2 linked regions of the Homo sapiens genome follow. The protein of the gene in region 2 interacts with the protein of the main gene of each other region in a biochemical or structural test. Each region holds a gene or a part of one and is shown on either strand. Other genes may lie near its edges.

Region 1 (5,561 bases), on a different chromosome or scaffold from region 2:
TCCTGCGGCCTCTCAGCAGCATGGGTCATGGACACCTGTTCCAATACATCGTGGCTGCACATGCATCTCTGATTCTCTCTGTGTCTGCTCTTCTTGCCAACTAATGACACATTCATCATGGATCCCTTCTGAATCTCCGAGAGGACCTGATGGTTTCAGTTAATTACTATTGTCCCTCTTTGATAAGGTCTTCCTTGACAGGTGACCTCATAGACTTGTTTGGCCAATTATCTGCTGTTCAGACTCCCACCCCTGGCCTGATCATCTGTGGTGACGTCAGAAGGGACCAAGGGGGGCCTGGAAGGCATCTTCAGTATAACTGAATTCTCTCCTGAGGAGAGACCCTGGGGGCTGTCAGTCTCCTCCTACTCCTAGTACAAGTTCTCTTGGTGACATTAACTCCATCTGGGATGCAGAAATTGCTAGCTGTCACTTTCAGGGGTGTTCTTTCCTTGGCTAATGTCTTGCTCTTAGATTTGGGATCTTATGTTTCTCTGAGATCTGCAGCTTCTTGCCAAATAACTATACCTTTTTTCTGAACATCTGCACTAGGCTCTTTCTCCTCCCCTCTCCTTCCAGCCCCCAACTCTCTGTCCCAGTCCTTCTTGTGCAAACGATCCAGACTGGCTTTCATTAAACACCACTTCTCCCTTCATTCCTGACTCAGAAACCTCACTATGTCTTGGTGTCATCCATTTAGCCTGTTGACTTCTCGTCTTCCCCATTCCTGAACATTCCAGCCTAACCAGGTTGGTTTCCTCACACTCCTACAAAGGTACCGTGGCTTTTTCCTACCTCTATGCTTTCATTCATGTGGTTATTGTGACCTAGAATGTTCTCACCTTCCTCTCCCACTTGTCCAATCCCCACCTCCCCCACAAAACCTACCCTGACTTTCCCAGGCTCGCTGTTTCTTTCCTCTGAATTCCCAGGGCACTTAGCCTCTGTGATACCTAATTCAGTGCAGTTACACGCTCTCTTCTTATTCTGTAGCTGTTTAGTCATAGTTCCACAGCTAAATTATAAACTTCTGGATGGTGAAGTGGAATTTATTTAAAATTTTTTTATCATTCCATATTTCATTTCAAAAGGGGAAGTGGTTTTTTTAAAAAAAGATGAAATGAAAAAGGATGAGTTCATGTCCTTTTTAGGGACATGGTTGAAGCTGGAAACCATCATTCTCAGCAAACTATCGCAAGGACAGAAAACCAAACACCGCATGTTCTCACTCATTGGTGGGAATTGAACAATGAGATCACTTGGACACAGGGTGGGGAACATCACACACCAGGGCCTGTTTTGGGGTGGGGGGAGGGGGGAGGGATAGCATTAGGAGAAATACCCAATGTAAATGACAAGTTAATGGGTGCAGCACACCAACATGGCACATGTATACATATGTAACAAACCTGCACATTGTGCACATGTACCCTAGAACTTAAAGTATAATTAAAAAAAAATAACAATAAAGCCAGAATACACCAAAAAAAAAAAAAAGATAAAATGAACATATTTGAATGTTTACGTTTTAGACACTTTAGCAGACACTCAGCATGTATTTAATTTTGACAACAATCCCAGGCCACAGGTACCATAACCCTTATTTTAGAGGGGGGAGTACAGAGGTTCAGAGAGGCTAAGTAATTTGCCCAAGGTTACAGAGGCATTAGGTGTCAGGACCGAGACCTAAACTCAAGTCTGACCCTGTAGTTTTCACTCTTTGCACCACCACGTGGCTTGTTTTATAATTGTGGCCATGTTTTATTCCTTATACCTCTCAGTATGGTATTGACTACTTTGGCAAAGGCTCAATAAATACTGATTATAAGGTAATTGATGGCTCTTTTTAATCAGAGGATTGAGAAGAGCCCTTCCTTATGCTTTCTTATTAGTTCACTTATACATACATTTAAAATTTTACTGGACACCAGCTATGAGCCAGACACTGTTCTAGACATGAGGACACAGACAGAATATGATCCCTGCTCACCCAAAGAAGTGAGGCTTATACAAAAATGACTAATATACAATTGTATTCATTATCCATTACTCCACAAAAATTACCACAAATTTACTGCCTTATAACAACACATGGCCAGGCGCGGTGGCTCACACCTGTAATCCCAGCATTTTGGGAGGCCAAGGTGGGCTGATCACCTGAGGTCAGAAGTTCAAGGCCAGCCTGGCCAACATGGTTAAACCCTGTCTCTACTAAAAACACAAAAAATTAGCCGGGTGTGGTGGCGGGCGCCTATAATCCCTAGCTATTAGGGAGGCTGAGGCAGGAGAATTGCTTGAACCTAGGAGACAGAGGTTACAGTGAGCCGACATCACACCACCGCATTCCAGCCTGGGCAACAGAGTGAGACTCCATCTCAAAAACGAAAACAGAAAACAAAAAAACACACACACATTTATTGTCACACTGTTTCTGTGGGTGGGAAATTTTGGCACAGCTTCACTGGGTCCTCAGCTTAGGTACTCACAAGACTATAATCAAGGTGTTGGCTGGACTAGGTTCTTATCCGGCTCAGTTGGGGAAGAATCTGCTTCCAAGCTCACTCGGGTTGTTGGCAGAATTCAGGTTCTTGCAGCCACAAGACTGAGGGCCTCTGCTTGTTGTTGGCTGGAAGCTGCTCTTGGCTCCTAGGAGGGGCTCTAAAAGGGTGGGCCAGCAAGGAGGAGTTCTATACAATGCAACACAGTTGCCAGAGTGACACCCTATCACCTTTGCCTTATTCCATTCATTAGAAGCAAGTCACAGATCCCACTTACACTCAAGGGGAGGGGACCAAACAAGGGCATGAATTCCAAGAGGTGAGGATCATGAAGGGAGGCTGTCTTTGAGTCTGTCTTCCACAACAATAATAAATAAGTGCCAGGTGAGTGGTACAGACAACAAGTACTGCAGGAACTCAGCTGGGCTCCACATGTGAGGTGGTGTCACTGCTGATGAGCTCGGGCCATTCAGAGGCCTGGAGGATCCTATTTGAATGAGATTGTGAGAGATGGGCACTACCATCAGTTTACAGGCAAAATGGAGATTTCACAAATGCTCCTGGAGACCATGGGCCCCGACCTCCACAGTGGCAGCCCCAAGCATGAGCCTGTCCTGGAAGGAGGCTGGCTATCGTCCAAGAGTCAGAGGGTCAGGCATCAGGTGATGACTGTGGACATGAAGAAATGGTGACATGTTCAGGAGCTGGCAGGCCCGAAGATGCACTGGGTAGACCCAGTGGGGGCCTGGACAGGTTGGAGGAAGGAGAGAGAGGAGGCTGAGGTGAGCCTGAAGTGAGGTGTCCCAGGGATGAACAGGTCAGAGCTTCTGAGGGGGCTGAAGAAGCAATTCACTGACTCCTTTCTCCAACTGGGGATAAATAACCTCTAATTTCTGTGGAGCACTCCTAGAAACAAAGAAATCTTTCATAGATTAATATGTATTCATATATTCCATTGGCTCTTCCATTGGCCATGTAGCATCAAGATACAAAAGCTAACGGAGCAGTGGGTCTCCTTGACCTCTGTGCATGTCTGTGTTGTGTGGGTTTATATGCACATGTGGGAAAGAAGAAGGGACAGCTCGTACCTGTTCAGTAAGTCACCAGCATTCTAGGAGAGAGAAAAAGTGAGAATCATAATTGGTTCTCAGGTTCCTATCACCTCCAAATTCCTTTCCCAATTCACTCTTGGAGGCCACTCTGGGGTGCCACCTTGAGAACTGGGGGAACATAGCAACACCCCTCTTCTGTGCCCATTCTGCTGCAGCAGCACTCTGTAGCCTGGAACAAGCCACATCTACCACAAGTCACCACATATCACACAGGCCCCTCCCTCTTACACCTCCCAGAAGGGTGATGCAGATGGGCTGCCTCCTATCGGGGAGAATCCCAGCCCTTGGGGAAGGCCTCAGGGTATGCACCTTCAGTGTGTTGGTGTCTAATTCCTTGGCCGTCCTTTCCAGATCAATGACCAGGCTTCTGAGCTGTGTTACTGCCCTGGAGATGTCAAGGATTCTGGCCGCTTCTGCTGGCATGTGCTCCAGCTGGCCCAGCCACTGCTGAGGGAGGGCACCCAGCTGTTCCCTGGTTTGGTGCTGGCTCTCCGGCCCAGCCTCCAGCCTGTGGTTCCCGTGGTCTACCTGAAACTACAGGAAAGGGGCTCCCTAAGACTCAGTGTCAGGTGGCTCCCTCCTGGCCCTTCACAGTCTCTGAATGTCTGAGCAGGAATGCTGATTCCTCAGTCCTCTTGCCCTCATGGTGTTGCCTCTGTGTGTCACAGGTATAGCAGAAGCAGCTTTGATTCTCATAAAGGCAGGGACACCTCACCTTTCCACCTCACTCTCTGAATATCTACAGATGCCATGTGACCAAGAGGAATAGAAAGGTAGACTGTCAGAGACAGAAATGGAGGCCTATGGCGGCCGGGCACGGTGGCTCACACCTGTAATCCCAGCACTTTGGGAGGCCAAGGCGGGCGGATCACGAGGTCAGGAGATCGAGACCATCCTGGCTAACATGGTGAAACCCCATCTCTACTAAAATATAGAAAAAATTAGCTGGGCGTGGTGGCAAGTGCCTGTAGTCCCAGTACTCGGGAGGCTGAGGCAGGAGAATGGCGTGAACCCGGGAGGCGGAGCTTGCAGTGAGCGGAGTTCGTGCCACTGCACTCCAGCCTGGGCGACAGAGCAAGGCTCCATCTCAAAAAAAAAATAAAATAAAATAAAAAGAAACAGAGGCCTATGGCTTGTGTAGTAATTTTCAGTTGACGAGACACTGGTCTCCTTTGATCCCTACTGTGATCCAGGCAGAGCAGGACTGGTTCTCATTTAACATGTAAGTCACATAAAGATCAGAGGGCTTAACTTGCGTAGGTCACTCAACCAGCAAACTTTGACGCCAAGGCCAACACCCGGGTTTTCAGCCTCCACGACCATCTGCCCACATCAGGCTGTTCCAGGGACAGACAGATGTCCAGAATAGTTAAGTAAGGGCTCCTGAGAACACTCCAGGGAGTCCTTCCCAGGAACCCGAAAAACCCACCTGCAGAGCCTGCAGTTTCTTCTCCTGCTGAGCCTTGAGCCGCTGAAGTTCTGCAATGTCCTTTCTGAGCTTCCTGCTCCGGCGATTGAGTCGTTCCTAAAGAGACAGACACACCTGCTTGTCAGACTGGGAGTGAGGGGGGCACCCACTGGGAGGAGTCAATGGAACACGGTAGGGGGCCTGATCCCAGAATGCAACTAATGTAAAATTCTGCCTAAAAAGAAATGCTTTTAGAGCATCATGGTTGGAGTAAGGGACTTGAGAGTTTATTTATTGGATAATGATGGGGGGAAATAGTAATGGGTAATTTTTTTACAGTCTTAGAAGTACAGAAAAAATAATAGATAGCAACAGAACCATTTCTACTTGACTTCAGGGTGCTTTCTCTCAACATACAAAAGTTATATGACAGTCTTCTAGCACTTCTTACTATTTTACAGTAACACATGGAGCCAGTCTGGAGGGAATTGCCTTAAAGAGGAAATGGCAACCCTCTGCTACCTCTGCTGCCTGGTCCTCACT
Region 2 (10,627 bases):
ATAATTTGTTTCTGCCAGGGCTGTTTCAGTATCAAAAAGGTGGACATGGTAGTCTTCAGTCCTCACCGATTAGTTAATGCAATTCAAGCCAACCCTAGTTCAGCATCTGTTCATCTTCCTTTTTATAGCTTTGATTTTAATTTTTACGACACAGTTGAACCTCTCTGAGCCATCCCAGTTTAAACCAGAGAAAAAAAGCAATGAATCTATTTTATTTTCAGGGTTTTGGGTGAATTAAATTGACTGATCTATTTATAAGTACTTTGAAAACCAGGAAATATAAGGCATTCTTATACTTATCTTACAATGACTATGGATTTCTTATAAATTAAAATTAGATGCAATTGTGTTCATATTTATAACACATCGATATTGGATTAGTTTTAGAAAGCATTTTGGCCAAGAATTATTTTAATTTAATCTCCTCTAAAAATATTATTTTAATATAAATGTTTACTAACCTTAATGCCCACATTTTCTCCCTCTGATTAATAGGTTCTGCCCAGTTGGTTTTTCTGGAAGTAGTAATTACTGTATTAAAGTACGTATGTGTTTCAAGTACCTGAAACTACAGAAGAATCTGCAAAAGATGATTCTGATGAGTTATTCTCCATGCCCCAGACCTCCTTCTCCAGATTTGGCTGAACTGTGGTTGAAAGAAGTTGCTCTTCCACTTGAGGACCATCAACTTGTGATAAATTCTCAATCTCTGTGAATAACAGTATTAGAATGCAAATCATAGTGCCATACAAGTTTTTGTAGAGCATACATAACTGTTATTGTTATTTTGAAAACAAACTAGAGGTTCCTAATAGAGATTGCCTGAATATATTTAAATACTTTGAAGTTCTGAATAGAATGTAAATTGTATTGCAATGCAAGATTTTATACAATATAAATAGCTGTTATTGTTATTTTGAAAACAAAATGGAGAGCCCGCAATAGAGATTGCTTTAATATATTTTAATATGTTGACATTTCGAAAGGCTTAGAATGTGCTTTTGTTATGGCAAGGTACTTTTAATTTTAATATGGACACAACGAGTAGTTCTTTGTAATGATTAGACTGTAGCTAAAAAAACAATATAAGCATTATGCTAATCACAAGAAAAGTGATTTCCTGTCTGACCGTCATGTTTAGGAAGTAAGTCACTTATTCAGTGACACAAAGTTACATTTAAGGCTGAATTAATGAAAATGCAAATTTGGTAGTTTTCTTTAGCTTTGCTCTTGCCATTTTGTTTCCTCACTGTGTGTTCTGCACGAGACGTACATCTGCTTTAATGTCAGCCTATATTCATGTATTCTGAATTTCTGGGGATTTTTAAAACATTTAATGAAATATTTTGTGCCCCTCTTTTCTTCTTTCCTCCATTCCTCACTTCCAGCTTTTCTTACTTCAACTACATGTAATGGGTATTTTATTAAGGGCTTATGTGGGTTAAAAAGAAAATCAAGAGTTTTTGCCTTTATGAAGCTGCAATCTGTCAGAGAAGACTGATGCCATAAGGAAAATTTTCTAACGTATCATTTTTTATTATCTCATCTTAAAGAACCCAGTGAAAATGTGCCCCACTTTGTATGGAAAATTTCCTAAAGAAAACTGTTGTGACTTTGGACAAGAAGAAAACTTGGCAATGTTTGCAGTTAGATATTAAGTACATTAGGGACTATTATAATAGTTAATTTATTTTGCACTCACAATATAAATACTTTACATACATTAAGTTATTTAAGTCTCAAAATAAACCTAGATGGTAAGTAATATTATTGTCTCCATTTTACTGAGGTGATAAGTAATATTATTATCTCCATTTTACTGAGGAGTAAACTGAGGCATAGAGAAGTCGAGAACCTGGCCAAAGGTCACACATTCAAGGAAGGAGCCTGGATTTGATAAGCATCAGGATCCGATATGTATCAGGACCCAGAGTCTAAGCTCCTACAGTAGTCTGTTTATGCTGCCATAATAAAACACCATCAACTGAGTGGCTGAAACAACAGACACTTCTTTTCTCACAGTTCTGGGCACTGGAAGTCCAAGATCAAGGTGACAGCAGGGTCAATGTCTGATGAGGACTCTCTCCTTGATTTGCAGATGGCCACGTTCTCCCTGCGTCCTCACACGGTTAAGAGAGAGAAAGAGACAGATGTTTCTCTTTTTCTCTTTCTTCCTCTTCTTAAAAGGCCACAATTCTATCAGATTAAGGCCCCATTCTTATGATTCATTTAATCTTTTTTTTTTTTTTTTGAGACGGAGTCTTGCTCTGACACCCAGGCCAGAGTGCAGTGGCATGATCTCGGCTCACTGCAACCTCAGCCTCCTGGTTCAAGTGATTCTTCTGCCTCAGCCTTCCAAGTAGCTGGGATTATAGCTGCATGCCACCACCCCAGCTAATTTTTGTATTCTTAGTAGAGATGCGGTTTCGCCATGTTGGCCAGGCTGGTCTCAAACTCCTGACCTCAGGTGATCCACCCGTCTTGGCCTCCCAAAGTGCTGGGATTACAGGCGTGAGCCACCACGCTTGGCCTGGCTCATTTAATCTTAACTATCTCCTACTATCACTGTCTCCAGATAGAGTCATATTAGGTTCCAACATATGAGTATTAGGAGGACAAAATTCCATCTGTAGCATTTTACCATTGGCTTCCCAAAATTCATATCTTTACTACATACAAAATACATTCATCTCATCTCATCAGCCCAAGTGCCTTAACTCACTGAAGCATGAACTCTAAGTCTAAAGTCAAAAGTCTCACCTAAACATTGTCCAAATCAGACGTAGATGAGACTAGAGGTGTGATTCATGATAAGGCAAATTCATCACCAGCTGTGAACTTGTGAAACCAGTTGAGCTACATGTTTCTTTTCCATAATACAATGGTGGGACAGGCATAGGATGGACGTCTTATTCCAAAAAGGAGATATAGGAAAGAAAGCAAGGGTGATGGGTCCCAAGCAAATCCAAAACTTATTAAGGTAAATTCTGTCACATCTTAAGGCTTATAAGGCTTGAGAATAGCTCTGTTTGGTTTGATGCTCTGCCTTCCAGGTCCACGGAATGGCAGGTTCTAGGGCTCTGCAAGACAGCCTGCTCTCTCTAAGGGCTCCATCCACACAGCTTTCTGTGAGGATAGCTCTGCTTCTGAGACACTAGGCAGGGTCATCCTGAGGGCTCACTAAAACCAGAGAGACAGTTTTGCCCTTTGAAACCAAAAAGGAAACTGCCTTGGCCTCTGGGTCTGTGGTGGAAGTGGCAACCCTGATGACTTCTGTATCACTTTTGGGGGCATTCTTTCCTTTCCCTGAAGAATAGTACACATTCACAGCCAAATAGCTCTATGGTCTGGTTCTGTAGAATCCAGAAAGTCCAGTATCCTTTTCTCATTCTGTCCTGCTTTCTCTGTCTCCTTCAGTTCAAACTGGAAGTGTATTTGCTGGTATAATATATCTCTACTCCTACCTTCTGCTGAAATGGCTGATTAAGTCCATCAGTAGCACCCATGATCTTGTTATCAATTGGTTGTTCTCTTTATAACACAATTTCTCATTTTTTGCCATATGGATAGGCTGAGAATTTTCCAGATATTTAAATTTTGGTTCCTTTTTGCATAACAACTCCTTCAATTAATTTCTCTTCTTTTGCATTTTACTATAAGCAGTTAGGGGAAATCAAGCTGCTCCTTCAGCATTTTGCTAAGAAATTTTCTCAGCCAAATATCCAAATCCATTACTTGTGAGATCAAGTTTTATCCCATTTTATAACAAGGATCACCTTTCTTCCAGTTTCCAATGACATTTTTCTCATTTCTCTCTGTGACCTCACCAGAATCACCCTGAACACCCATATTTCTACCATTCACCCAAAACTCTTACAGTCTCTATCAATTACCCAGTTCCAAAGCCACTTCCACACGTTTAGGTGTTTGTTACAGCAGCACCCCACTTTTTACAGCAAAGTTTTCATTAGTTAGGGTCACCAGAACAAAACTGCAATGATTATAATTAATTAATAGTTAACTTTCAATTTGTCTTTCATATGATATTTTTGGAAACATAGGATGCATACTACGAAAAGAAAAATAAGATAGCAGTTTAAGTGAGATTTACAAATAATGTAGGAGAAGGAGCTATAAAATGTTATGTTATTACTATTATTGAATGCTGTTTAAAATCTCACATTAGGTAAGGTTGAGATATATTGACAAAACAATCCTTTTATCAAATGCTTAATACATTGCTTAAAATGTATAAAAATGTTCAGAAGAATATGCAGCAGATTTTTTATAACCACTAAAATACTTTCTTCCAATGTATTTGTGTATATTTAATGTTACATAATCTTGATAAAATTTCTGGTAGTCATATTGTTTTTAAAATAAGGTAGTAGAAAGAGTGTTGGTTGGATGAAAAATGGTCTTTGATCAGTTGATATTTTCCCAGGCATCAATTTCCTCATTTGTTAAGGTGATAAAATAGATGATCTATCACATATGTTCCACTCTTAAAATTTTGATTCTAAAAATCTTGGTGTTTAGCATTGTGTCTTTCTGCTTTATTGAATTCTCAATCACTAGGCAGAATTTGAAGAATCTTCCTCAGTAAAATTACAAATACCTGCATTGCTTTCTGAGCAATCAGAGCCTGTTAACTCTTGGACAAGTTCATTGTTTCCTGTTTGACGAAGAACATTCAGAAATGCAGAGAACCAGTTTTCTTTCTGCACAATCCTTTTTAGTAGCTCTCTTACACCTGATTCATTTCCATTGTTTTCTGCAGCAGCAATCTGTTGTAAGAGAAAATTAGAATTAAGTAAGATCAAACATCTTCTGAATAACCTTAAACAGGAAATACCCTTTAGAAAAACTGAGCAATTAAGCATAAGTATAAATAAAGGCTTACATTGAAACATTGAAGAAAATAGCAATGTTACCTGTAGCAATTCTGAAGTCGGCAGGGAAAAAAATCTCCGGGACAACAACAACAACAACAACAAAAATCTCTGGACCAAGTGTCCTTTTAAATATGAACCATTTTTTTTAAAAGCTATTGAATTATTCAAACCTGACACCTAGAAAATAAATTTTACCTCAGCCATTCCTGAATAAAGGATAGAAGAGAAAGTATCTTTAGTCTGCAGCCATGTTATGTCTATTTTCACCAATTTCTTTCTGTATATCTAGGGCTGGCTATATTTTTTCAATCTATGGAGTCTGTAAATGGGAAATCAAACATTTCTTATCTCCTTTCTTCATGATTATCATTATGAAATAAGTAATTACTACTGCAGATTTATATTTTTTCCTATGTAATATTTGCATAGTTGATTATTACTATAATCAATTTTTCTCAAATTTGTGTTTTTTTAATGTTATGGGAAATTTATTGTTATATCTTTTTTTTGGAAATATGGGGCAGAATTATTTTTATATCCATTCATTAGAGTCTTTAGCCTTCTTTTATTTTCTCTTTTAGATTAGTAAATTTCTTTTAAATGTGGATCTTTTGTGTAATCATTGTCACAGTGCATTTCCCTAGGTCCTAATATAGCAATAAGGATTTGGAGGAAAGAGTAACTCAAGCCATGTTTAGACATGAAAGAAGTTAGGCAGGACATCATTAGCTTTCTGTGGCATTAGGCAATTTACTTCATCTCCCTAGACCTTGGTTACAATATGTGGTTACAAGGCAGCTGAAAAGAAATTTCAGAGTTTCTATATCTTAGCTGCATGTTAGAAACAACCGTAAAGCCTTAAAAAATACTGATGTCTAGGAAACACCCCTAAAAGATTATGATTTATTTTGTCTATGTTAGGAACTCAGATATTAAAGAAAAAGTAAAACATCTCATGTGATTCTATCAGCCTCCCAGATAAGAAATATTGACTTTGATATTATCAAAGGTCCTTCTCAACATTTGCCAATCTTCCACATGTATCATTTGGATTGTTTAGTTCTTTCCTACAAATTTATGTATTTTCTAGTTCTATAAATATATTCCATAACCTTTTATGTCAGAAATTTGTTAACATTTTTGGAACAATGTCTGGCACTAATTCAGTGTTAGAACTATTATGGATGATTGGGAAGAGTTATTGTTACAAACACCTCACCTGCACAAGCACATACAGCATGGTCTCTACCCAAGGGATATTTCCGTCTTAGCATCTAGTAGTTAAGCATGCTGTTCTAGGGAACTTGAATATATTAACCCAGCAGCCCAGAAATAGGTACCAATATTAACTCATTTACAGATCAGAAATCCGAGGCACAGAGATGTTTAGGTACCTCTCTGAGGTCACAAAGTGAGTAAGTGGCAGAAGTAGAATTTGATCCCAGGCAGTTGAATTTAGAGGCTGAATCCTGCCTTCTTGAACTATAATTATAGCTTATAATTTTCTCCAATTTTAAATTCATTTTCTGGCAAGAAGTGGTTAAAAATAACTATTTGAACTCAGTAAATTTCAAGTGAATTCAGTCCATGTCACCCACAACATTTTCTAAGCAGATTTTTGCTCATTTTTTACCATTTTTTTCTAGCTCTCTTAGTCTCCTAATGGAAATTCTTTGGCTTCCCTGATGTTGTAACATCTTTATTATCATCTGCTAATTTAACAAGTAATTGCTATAGATGTAAATAAGACTGGTTTCAGTGTCTTCTTTTAACTCAGCCATTCTCATATTTTATTACCCCATCCTTTAATCAGCTTTAAATATATTTGACTGAAGCAATCAGGAAGGATTTCCTTAAAAAGAACCAGTGAGGCAACAAATGCTGTTATTAAAAATCCCTAAGCATATTCTATCCACAAAATTTTCTTCAACCACTATTCTATTAAGTCAACTTTTACTGTGGAATCATATTTTTCAAGCTTTCTTTGCCGTTATTGAGTCCAAGCATATAAGGATCATGATGTCATTATTTCCTAAACATATTCTTACAATTTGAATGTGGAACTACATATATCTGTGCAATTTTAGCAGCCTCATCAAGATGCTGAATTTTTAAGAAATCTTCTCAGTTTTGGTGCTGGAAAGTACATCAGCTCCCTTTGAAGCAATTATATAATTTTAAAAATTTAATATGTTCTCCTAAAACATTGTAAAGATATTGATCCCAATATGTAAACACAATTACAGAAATTCGTGGGAGGTGAATATTTACATTTGAGACTGCAACAAGTCATAAAACAATTCTCACCCATGCCCCTCCCCCACTCGAAGTTTTCTCTGTGAAGTTAAAAATGGATGGATGTTTTCACTATGTAGTCTATTAATACATTGTTAACTAATTTATGAAATACGAAATAAAATTAATTTGGTAATAATACAACTCAATGCTTTCATATTCTAAATTCTTTGATATGTTTTTTCTTTCCAACAGAAATCAGTGAAGAAACCAATGACATTTCCATAAAGCACTGGCTTACCAACACAATTGTACAGTTTAATGAAAATGTTTTCTTCCCTTTATAATAACCTTAGATAGCTATTTAAATATAATGGTGATTTTTTTAACCCAGCAGAGTTCAACTCTCAGATAAAAGTAAATCAGGAGGCAAAACCTGTATGTTAAAAAAGAATTTTAAAGAACCAGTTTCCCACAAAAAGTTAATGTCTTAACCCAATGAATATTTATTGTCACATTGACATAGCTAATTTCTTATTCATACTTTTTTTTTTGCAGATGAAATTCTTATCTTTCCTAATTTGCCAGACAATACAATGTTCCTGGGGAGATTGACTTGGGTGCTCAACTTCATGTTGGGAGAACTGGACTGTTCTTAGGTGGACTAGTCATGGCATCTCTGGTTCTTCTGTGTAAATGGAAGGTGTGTGGAGTCTCCAGGACTACAGATGCATTGTGTTCTGAACTGGCCAGGGATGAAACATGCATCTCTCTTTAGCTGTTCAGCTTGATTATTAAGACACTATGGAAATGTTTATATGATCACTTTCGTTCCCAGAGTTCATGACTGCCTAAATTGATGGGTGTGCCAAGTTGTAACTTAGTTATAACTAAGATGTAACAATGCCAAATTGTAACTTAGCATCCTAAAAGAGGAGCAAGGCAGTACAGGGGTACCCCCTTACCATTAAGGATTGCTTTATTATAATGATTGATAAAATGGCATATATTTATTGCTGAAACTCTAGTATTTAGAATAGTCCCTTGTATACAGTAGACATTCTTCTTTCCTTCCTTCCTTTCTTCCTTCCTTCCCTCCCTCCCTCCCTCCCTCCCTCCCTCCTTTCTTTCTTTCTTTCTTTTCTTTCTTTCTTTCTTTCTTTCTTTCTTTCTTTCTTTCTTTCTTTCTTTCTTTCTTTCTTTCTTTCTTTTTCTTTCTCTCTTTCTTATTAGATGGAGTCTCGCTCTGTCACCAGGGTGGAGTGCAGTGGCGCCATCTCAGCTCACTGCAAGCTCCGCCTCCCAGGTTCATGCCATTCTCCTGCCTCAGCCTCCCGAGTAACTGGGACTACAGGCTCCCACCACCACACCCAGCTAATTTTTTTGTATTTTTAGTAGAGACGGAGTTTTACCGTGTTAGCCAGGATGGTCTCCATCTCCTGACCTCGAGAGCCACCCTCCTCGGCCTCCCAAAGTGCTGGGATTACAGGCGTAAGCCACCATGACTGGCCTACAGTAGACATTCTTTTATCAACACTAATTAACACTACAACACAACTTCACGAAAGGACAAAACAGTCTCTGTGTTTTTCTCCTATCTTTTCACCACTAGCATGGCATCCGGCACAAAGATGCCACTCAATAAATTCAAACTGAATGAATGAGTGAATGAATGAATAAGTTTTTGGGTACTTGCTGGACACAAACCTATGTATAAAGTCATTTTCAGAAGGCCTGCTGTAATTACGGGCAGGGGCTAGGAAATGGGGTGGGAATCCTAAATTAAAATAATAGATCAAGTAGAAAATGTCTATGGGGAAACAGAAAAAGAATGAAAATACAAGACCATTTTATAGAAGTCTTGATTACTTAGTTAAATGCTATTTTAAGCCTTCAAAAAAGCAAATTTGGAAATCTTATTTTCATCATTCATCCATTCTCTAACGCCTGGCAACACAATTCAATACGTCATGTGTTTTCAACGCTTATTCCAGACACTTTCAGAAATAAATTCAATTAGTCTATCAATCAAGTAATCAATGCTTACTAAACACCAACCCTCTACCTAATCCTAGTTAGGTTCTGGGATGAAAGAGGTAATTTCTTTTTCAAATCAGTATAATCTAGGGACTTTAAGAAGTATATCTCAATTGCGACATGGGGAATTTACCTCAATCTCTCAAACTTAAATTTACACAGAAATGTAACCAGATGAATGGTTACAAAAGTCAACACCATTATCATATCAAATAGCTCTGATTTATAAGCTTTTTCATAAACACTATTTCTGATTTGATGTTGACTAAAATACTGTGAGAAATTTTATGATGTCCATTTTCACAGGTAAATGTAGCATCAGGGAACTTCAGTAATTTGGCCCAAAGTAACGCATATAGTAAGAAGCCAAGATGGACCTCAAATCCATGTGTTCCCCTTCTACAGTCTTATCACACTTTGCTGCTGTAAGATAAACATTTGTCAATGACCACCACCTCAATATAGATTATTCTACCAAACTTAATGCTTCCGTCTCATTGTCCACCATATCTTAGTTTTGGAACTGATAATACATGTAAATGATGCACACAAAAATTATTCCACACTCTCACAGAGAAACTATTGCTTCCTAGAGAGCCTCAAATTTATAGCTGCTCAGTCTTTTGGGGCCTCCTTTGAAATGTGAATCAGAGGGAGAATTTGGGTTGTTTTGGCCTTAACTGCTACCAGTACACAAAAGTCCCGTTACTCTATATCTTCTTTGTGTCAAATCCCTTGCATTACTGCTAGCTGCCTCCAAGCTTGCCAGAATCAAGAACTTGGATAAAATCTAGCTGGCGGAAATTCAATCCAGGCAAGACAAAAGTGATGCTGATAGGCAGAAGTATTTAGAGTAAATAGGGAGAAGTGCTGTTTCGCTGGCAATCGGGACATCATACCCACCAAACATAAACAGCTTTGTGGTGTTACTGGACTCTGTTGCTTCTGGACTTCTAACAGCTACTGTGGCTGGAAATGCCATCTTCCATCTCCAGCTGGCTTGAAGGCTGCATACTTTCTTCCAAATTAAGATTCTGCCACAGTGATGTACACATTTGTCATATCCAGCTGGACTACTATAATGCGTTCTAGCTGGTTCTCAATACACAAAACGACATAAACATTACAGACAACAGTGCAAAGTAATTTACTTGTTGGGAAAACTGGCCATCAAAATTAGATGCATGTTTGGGTCTTTGGACAGGCCCTGTGTCTGTCAAGTCTACAAAAGATCACTAACTTTATTCACTAAAGACTAAATTGCATCATAGGCTATAGCAAATCAATCAAATGCCCAGAAGTTTGTATGAATATACAAACAATGGATGACCCAAAAGAGAGAGAGAGAAAAAAACCATGTGAAAATCATAGAGTGGTGTAGACAAAGCCTTTGACTTTTAGTCATGGCTTTATTTGTCTACATGTCTTCCAAAACAAGACTTTTGACTTACGAGCCTGAA

What was found. Proteins that work in one complex are often made in the same cells at the same time.
Region 1: of the proteins of IFIH1 (region 2) and TRIM40, one has a biochemical effect on the other in vitro, tested with the Homo sapiens proteins (one study listed by BioGRID).

Annotation. Positions count from the first base shown.
Region 1 is NC_000006.12:30,145,568-30,151,128, reverse strand, and holds the end of TRIM40 (E3 ubiquitin ligase TRIM40), read right to left. Parts: intron 5,136-5,561; coding exon 5,040-5,135; intron 4,145-5,039; coding exon 3,920-4,144; intron 3,610-3,919; coding exon 3,587-3,609; intron 3,405-3,586; coding exon 3,317-3,404; 3' UTR 2,401-3,316; downstream 1-2,400. UniProt on the Homo sapiens protein: E3 ubiquitin-protein ligase that plays a role in the limitation of the innate immune response. Mediates inhibition of the RLR signaling pathway by ubiquitinating RIGI and IFIH1 receptors, leading to their proteasomal degradation.
Region 2 is NC_000002.12:162,306,147-162,316,773, forward strand, and holds part of IFIH1 (interferon-induced helicase C domain-containing protein 1), read right to left. Parts: intron 4,788-10,627; coding exon 4,619-4,787; intron 4,438-4,618; exon of another isoform or gene 2,761-4,437; intron 710-2,760; coding exon 563-709; intron 1-562.